Linked DNA regions of Homo sapiens: region 2 is linked to region 1. The links come from fine-mapping of genetic effects on gene expression. A gene starts in region 1. The other region holds a variant in brackets. All regions are shown on one strand. Distances are between the middles of the regions. Region 1 holds the start of PRUNE1 (prune exopolyphosphatase 1). Region 2 holds the start of BNIPL (BCL2 interacting protein like).

What was found. PIP is the estimated chance that this variant, and not a neighbour inherited with it, causes the effect.
Region 2: its variant is fine-mapped to the expression of PRUNE1 in whole blood (INTERVAL, PIP 0.98).

Annotation. Positions count from the first base shown.
Region 1 is chr1:151,006,828-151,009,626 of GRCh38, forward strand. PRUNE1 (prune exopolyphosphatase 1) reads left to right here and starts at 1,622. Exons shown (of 8, transcript NM_021222.3): 1 at 1,622-1,844. The coding sequence starts at 1,806. It overlaps MINDY1 (MINDY lysine 48 deubiquitinase 1), which reads right to left and starts at 75. Exons shown (of 10, transcript NM_001376665.1): 1 at 1-75. RefSeq lists enhancers at 1,473-2,015, 2,016-2,556, 2,212-2,261.
Region 2 is chr1:151,034,973-151,037,771 of GRCh38, forward strand. PRUNE1 (prune exopolyphosphatase 1) reads left to right here. Exons shown (of 8, transcript NM_021222.3): 8 at 1-741. BNIPL (BCL2 interacting protein like) reads left to right here and starts at 1,614. Exons shown (of 10, transcript NM_138278.4): 1 at 1,614-1,794; 2 at 2,595-2,690. The coding sequence starts at 1,754. The variant A/G (reference allele first, on the strand shown) is at 1,404.

The DNA.
Region 1 (2,799 bases):
CAGGAGAGAAAAACAACAGACCCTTTCTCTTCCCTCTGCCTGCCTCTAGAAGGGACGGAGCGCTTGTGCCTCTCTGGTGAGAATAGGGAAGAGCAAGTGCCCTTGCTAAGTAGGGAGGAGAAGGGCTGGACAGAAGCAGCTTGTTGGATCTGGGCTCTCTCTCTGGGTATGGCAGTCCTTTGCTCTGGATCCACAGAAGCAGGAGCAAAGAGCACGATATTTGCATGTATTACTCAATTAATGTTAAAAACAAACAAACAAACCCAGCTCTTTTCCCTCTGGAGCCCTCCAGAGAGCTCCTTTCCAAGTCCTTGCTGTATCATTTTTAAGTCTAGAAATGAAACTGGTTGGGTTGTGCACCTGGTAGAGTGCAGAGGGTGTGGTAGAAGCCCCAGGCTCTGGGCGCGATGGCTGACGCCTGTAATCCCAGCACTTTGGGAAGCCAAGGCGGGCGGATCACAAGGTCAAGAGATCAAGACCAACCTGGCCAACATAGTGAAACCCCATCTCTACTAAAAATACAAAAATTAGCAGGGCATGGTGGCACATGCCTGTAGTCCCAGCTACTCGGGAGGCTGAGGCAGGAGAATCGCTTGAACCCGGGAGGTGGAGGTTGCAGTGAGCCAAGATCCTGCCACTGCACTCCAGCCTGAAGACGGAGCAAGACTCCGTCTCAAAAAGAAGAAGAAGAAGAAAAGAACTGGCAGAGCAGGCAGGAGATCCAACACGCCTGTGCTCTGGATCTTGGTTCCACTGCAGGCCTCTCATCAGTCACCTCCTCTCGATTTACAGCTGGGGAAGCAGGAAAAGCTGGTGTGAGGCTGACGGTAGGAAATAAAGGGATAGATAAATAAATGAGGGAATTTTTGATGATGAGTGTCCATTTATTTGCAGTACCTGCACTACTCTGCGGCTGGAAAGTGGCAGTTAAGGGAGGTTGGAACCTAACTCCACATTCTGAAGGGTTCCCTAAACTCTATGTACAGGGCCGCCACAGGATGAAATTTCAAGCAACTCTAAAGGCTGAAAGAGCAATTGGAACAATTAGGGTGGCAGAGAGCAAAAAGCCAAGGTTACAACCGTCCAAGAAAGGAAGAAGATATTTGCCGAGGCTGTAGAAAAAAACAGGCTACAGAGTTGCAAAGGGAGAAGCAGCAGGAGTTGGCAGGAGACTGTAGGTGTTAACAAGAGGGGTCAAAGATTATTCTAATGTTCTCCTAACATGAACAACCACAAAATTGGTGGCGACTGAGTCAGTTTGGTAAAGGGCAGAATTTGTAGAAAGAAGATGATCTGTTTTGCCAAGTGTCATTTAAAATGTCACCAGATGCTCGGTGTGATATATGTAAAGATGTTATACTTGGCCTGATCTGAGAGGGAAAGTTCAGATGCCACAATAATGGGTTACTGTGACACATACACATTTGTTTACCGAACGACTGATCCCTCAGAAAACAATCCTTCCCTCGGTTGCTAGGGACATTGCGGAGTTGCGGGACTACGTTTCCCACGTCGCCCCACGCCACGCCCCCTTGGCCTCGCCGGAAAGACGTCCCAGGAGCCTCTGGGCGTAGAGCCCCGCCTCCGCCGCTGGGGGCGGGGCGACGCCGGACTCCGGAGCGCCCGCTTACGCAGTTCCTCCCGGGGTCGGAGGCCGATTCGCCGTGTGGCGGGTTCGAGTCCCGCCTCCTGACTCTGGCCTCTAGTCCCTGAGTCCCGGGCGGGCTGCATTCGTCGGGGAAACCTCTCCTCGACCAGGGGCACCTCTACTCGACCAGGGGCGACGGCGTACTTTGGGCTTCATCATGGAGGACTACCTGCAGGGTTGTCGAGCTGCTCTGCAGGTAACGAATCCCTGTCTGTGACTGTAAGGAATGGAGCACGGGGTCCAGGAAGGACGAAGACGTGGGATCTGGGGGAGCCTCGACGGTCCGTGTGGAGGGAACACTGAGTTGTGGGGAGGGGGGTTGGGGCCTGATCAGTTTTGGGGCATGAGGAGCGAGGAGCGAGAAGCCAGTTTAGGAGCGTGAGAATGCTGCTTGTTCAGTCTCCCGGTTTTTGGCTCCCCGCCTTTGGGGTCCGCCTGAGAGCGGGGAGAAGTCTTGGGTCTGAATCCTGCATTTGAGCCTCTGCTTGCTGTCATCTTGGTCAGTTCCATCAAAAAAACCAGGACTGTGCCGCCGCCAGCCTAGCCCCGCGAGGTGTGTTTATTCTTTTCTCCCCGCCCCTCTTTGAGTTCTCCGCTCCCAAGGCTTCGCTTGGCCCACTGGCCTCCAGGTGAACCTCGGGGGTGTGGAGGGAACCGGTGCTCACGGCCTTATTTCCTCCGAATGGCAGTTTCTGTCTGGCGGGCTGAACTCATTTCTAGGTTAGAAGTAGTCACAGTATTTTACTTTAAGTCAGTGTTTTTAAGCCAAACATACAAAATCCATCAGGCATATTTGTTGACCCACAACCAGCATTCCTTTGCCTCCAGGTTTCTCCTTTGGCCTTAACGCACACAAATGACATAAAAATTCTCCACTTGGAAGGGATAAGCACAAAGTGTGTTTGGAATCAAAACCATAAATATGACTACTCAATGCTTTGTGGCTTATTTTTGGTGCTCTCTGACTCAGTTGGACTCACCCAGCCATGCTGAGCCGTCATGAGGCATTAGGCTGTTATCCCCAGTTAGCAGCAAAAAGCTAACCAGAGACAGGCTCCAGGAGGTCACCCGGCCCCTCTACTTTGAGTTATACTGCCCTGAAGAAACCTAGATAGATGGCTTGCTGAGCTTTCCTTTTTAGATATCTTAAA
Region 2 (2,799 bases), 28 kb after region 1:
AATGACCTCATAGGCACTCTTCCAAAAAGACAACAGAACTGGAATGAGAGGCCTGGGTCTGTCTCCTGCCTTAGCAGGCCTATCAATTTCTTGTCAATCTCTTTTTTTCCTTGCTCACATTAAAAGGAAGCATGGAGTTCTAATGCTCCCATAAACTATGTATTTTGGCAAGACACTTCACTACTCCAGGTCTCACTTTCCCCATCTGTAAAACAGGGTTTGGACTAGGTGTTCCCTGGTATTCTGTGATCTGCCTCTTGCTGCCATTCTTTCTCTCCTCTGCTTCTCTGTATTTTTCTTCTGTTATCCCTGGGGGTGCTCAGGTTCACTTGATTGTCTGTATTTCTGTGTGGTTGTAGCAAGGACTCAGCCTCATGTAGCACGAATAGGGGTGTGGTTCATGGCGTGTTGACCCAGCAGAGCACTCCCTCCCACTAACTTGTTCTGCATGTGTAGAGTCTCCCCATTTTTTTTAACGCAACCCTTTCCCCTTTTTCCTACCCCACAGCTCTGTTCCATGTAAGTTGCCAACAGTTTCACTGAACAGTGGGGTATGTGATGGTTTTGGCATGACATCTTCAGTATGAGGGGGACAGTTTGACTTCACTTTGAGGGTGTGATGTCTGTAGCTATGTGGAAGGTAAAAATAGTGGTGTGATCATGAACCAAAGGAATTTATGTTTTGTAACTTGGGTACTTTATTTTGCATTTTGTTATACTATTAAATAATTTTTTCCTGTTTGGGGGTCTTACTGTCTTTTTTTACAAGTGTATTCAGGCCTTTCTCTGTGATAGTTGTTTCAGTCTCCTCAAAATTGATCCCCCTTCTTCCTACTATACTTAATGTCTTCTTTCTGTTGACTCTTTTTGGGAATAAGGAGCAACAGGCTTCTGTCTCCCCTCATCCTCAGCCTCCCGTTCAACTTGTTTATTCTCCCAGAAACCTCCTTATAACATACTTCCGTTTCCCCAGTTTTCCTTATGCTTGAAAAGTAGATCCAAGATAACAGTCCTAGAAACACACACAATGGTTTCTTTTTCTTTTTTTTTTTTTTTTTGAGATGGAGTTTTGCTCTTTTTGCCCTGGCTGGAGTGCAATGGCACAATCTCAGCCCACTACAACCTCTGCCTCCCAGGTTCAAGCGATTCTCCTGCCTCAGCCTCCCAAGTAGCTGGGATTATAGGCATGTGTCACCACGCCCAGATAATTTTTTTTTTTTTTTTTTTTTTTTTTTTTTTTTGGATTTTTAGTAGAGATGGGGTTTCTCCACATTGGTCAGGCTGGTCTCAAACTCCCGACCTCAGGTGATCCGCCTGCCTTGGCCTCCCAAAGTGTTGGGATTACAGGTGTGAGCCACCACGCCCGGCCAGAAACACAACGGTTTCTACTGGTTTTTTTGCTT[A/G]TTTGTGTAAAGAGCAACTTTGAGAGGGATATATGGAGTCTGGAAAGGAGAACAAATTGCCTTCCTAGACTCAACCGAGACTGGCCCCCACTAGAAAATGCACTCTCCTCCCCAAAACCCGCCCCCTCACAGGAGGCAGGGTTTTTCTTTTGGGCAAACCTGCTCCTGGGGAGAGGAGTGGCAAAACCTGTTTTGAAGATGAGGTTACCTCCCTTCCACACCTCCCTCCTTGGAGGCAAGAGCTACAACAGCTGAGACAGAAAAGAGGTAAGGAAGTGTTGGGGGCTGGGACAACCAGCTCCCCAACAACTCCTAGGTGTTTAAAGAAGGAGGCAGGAAGACTTGTGAAGATGGGAACTATACAAGAGGCAGGAAAAAAGACAGATGTTGGGTAAGTAAGATCTTGGCTCACTTGATTGGTAACAGTGAATAAACAGTCCGGAGAGACTTCCCCACCACCCAGCTCTTACTGGGTCAAATCTCGGGTTCCTCAAGGAGACAAGACTGTAAGAGAGTTTGCAGAGAAGAGATGAGGGTGGTTTTAGGTAGGAAATGTCAGTATGGTATGGAACTGGGGAACAGGATTCCAGGATAATTCCCTGGTTTAAAAATAAAGGAAGTTTCTGTAATATGTTGTACCTGATAAATCTGCCTGTGTTCTTTTATTTTCTAACCCTCACCCTCCAGAATGGCCATCAGGAAAGCTGAACCAGAACCGAGTTTAGGTCCAGGTTCTCGTTCTGGCAAATCTTTCTCCTTACCTTCTTCCTCCACCCCTCCACTTATGCCATGTTTTCCCTTAGCCACTCCCCAGCTCGGTGGAGGAAAGGCAGGCCTAACTAGGTACCGTCTTCCCGACTTTGCTCAATGATAGCTGGGTGGGTCTAGCTGGGTTCCAGCCACTTGTAATGTGGGACATCTCTCACCCCAACTTTGTAGGTGGAGCAACTGCTACAGAGGTAAATATGATTAACTTTACATTCCATCTTTCGTCTGCTCCCAAACTTAACAGCAGGTAATCTGCTTCTAGCAAGTGGTGAAGGTAAGAGAAGCATCTGTATAGGAGGCAAGAGATCTGAGTCCTTTTGAAGGCCTATCCTCTGCTCTGTATCTCAATTACTGTTCTTCATTTCAATTATTCTTACCTACTATTCAGTTCCCTTGATCTTTTCTTCTTGGGGGCTGTCTTAGGGTCAGGGAGATTGCAGAAGCACCAGAACTAGGAGCAGCCCTGAGACATGGGGAGTTGGAGCTGAAGGAGGAATGGCAGGATGAAGAATTCCCTAGGTGAGGACGTGTGAGGGTGGCTGGGAGAAGGGAGGGGTGGTCACGAATGGACGGAGGGGATGGCGCGGCGGCTCATGGCTGTAATCCCAGCACTTTGGGTGGCCGAGGC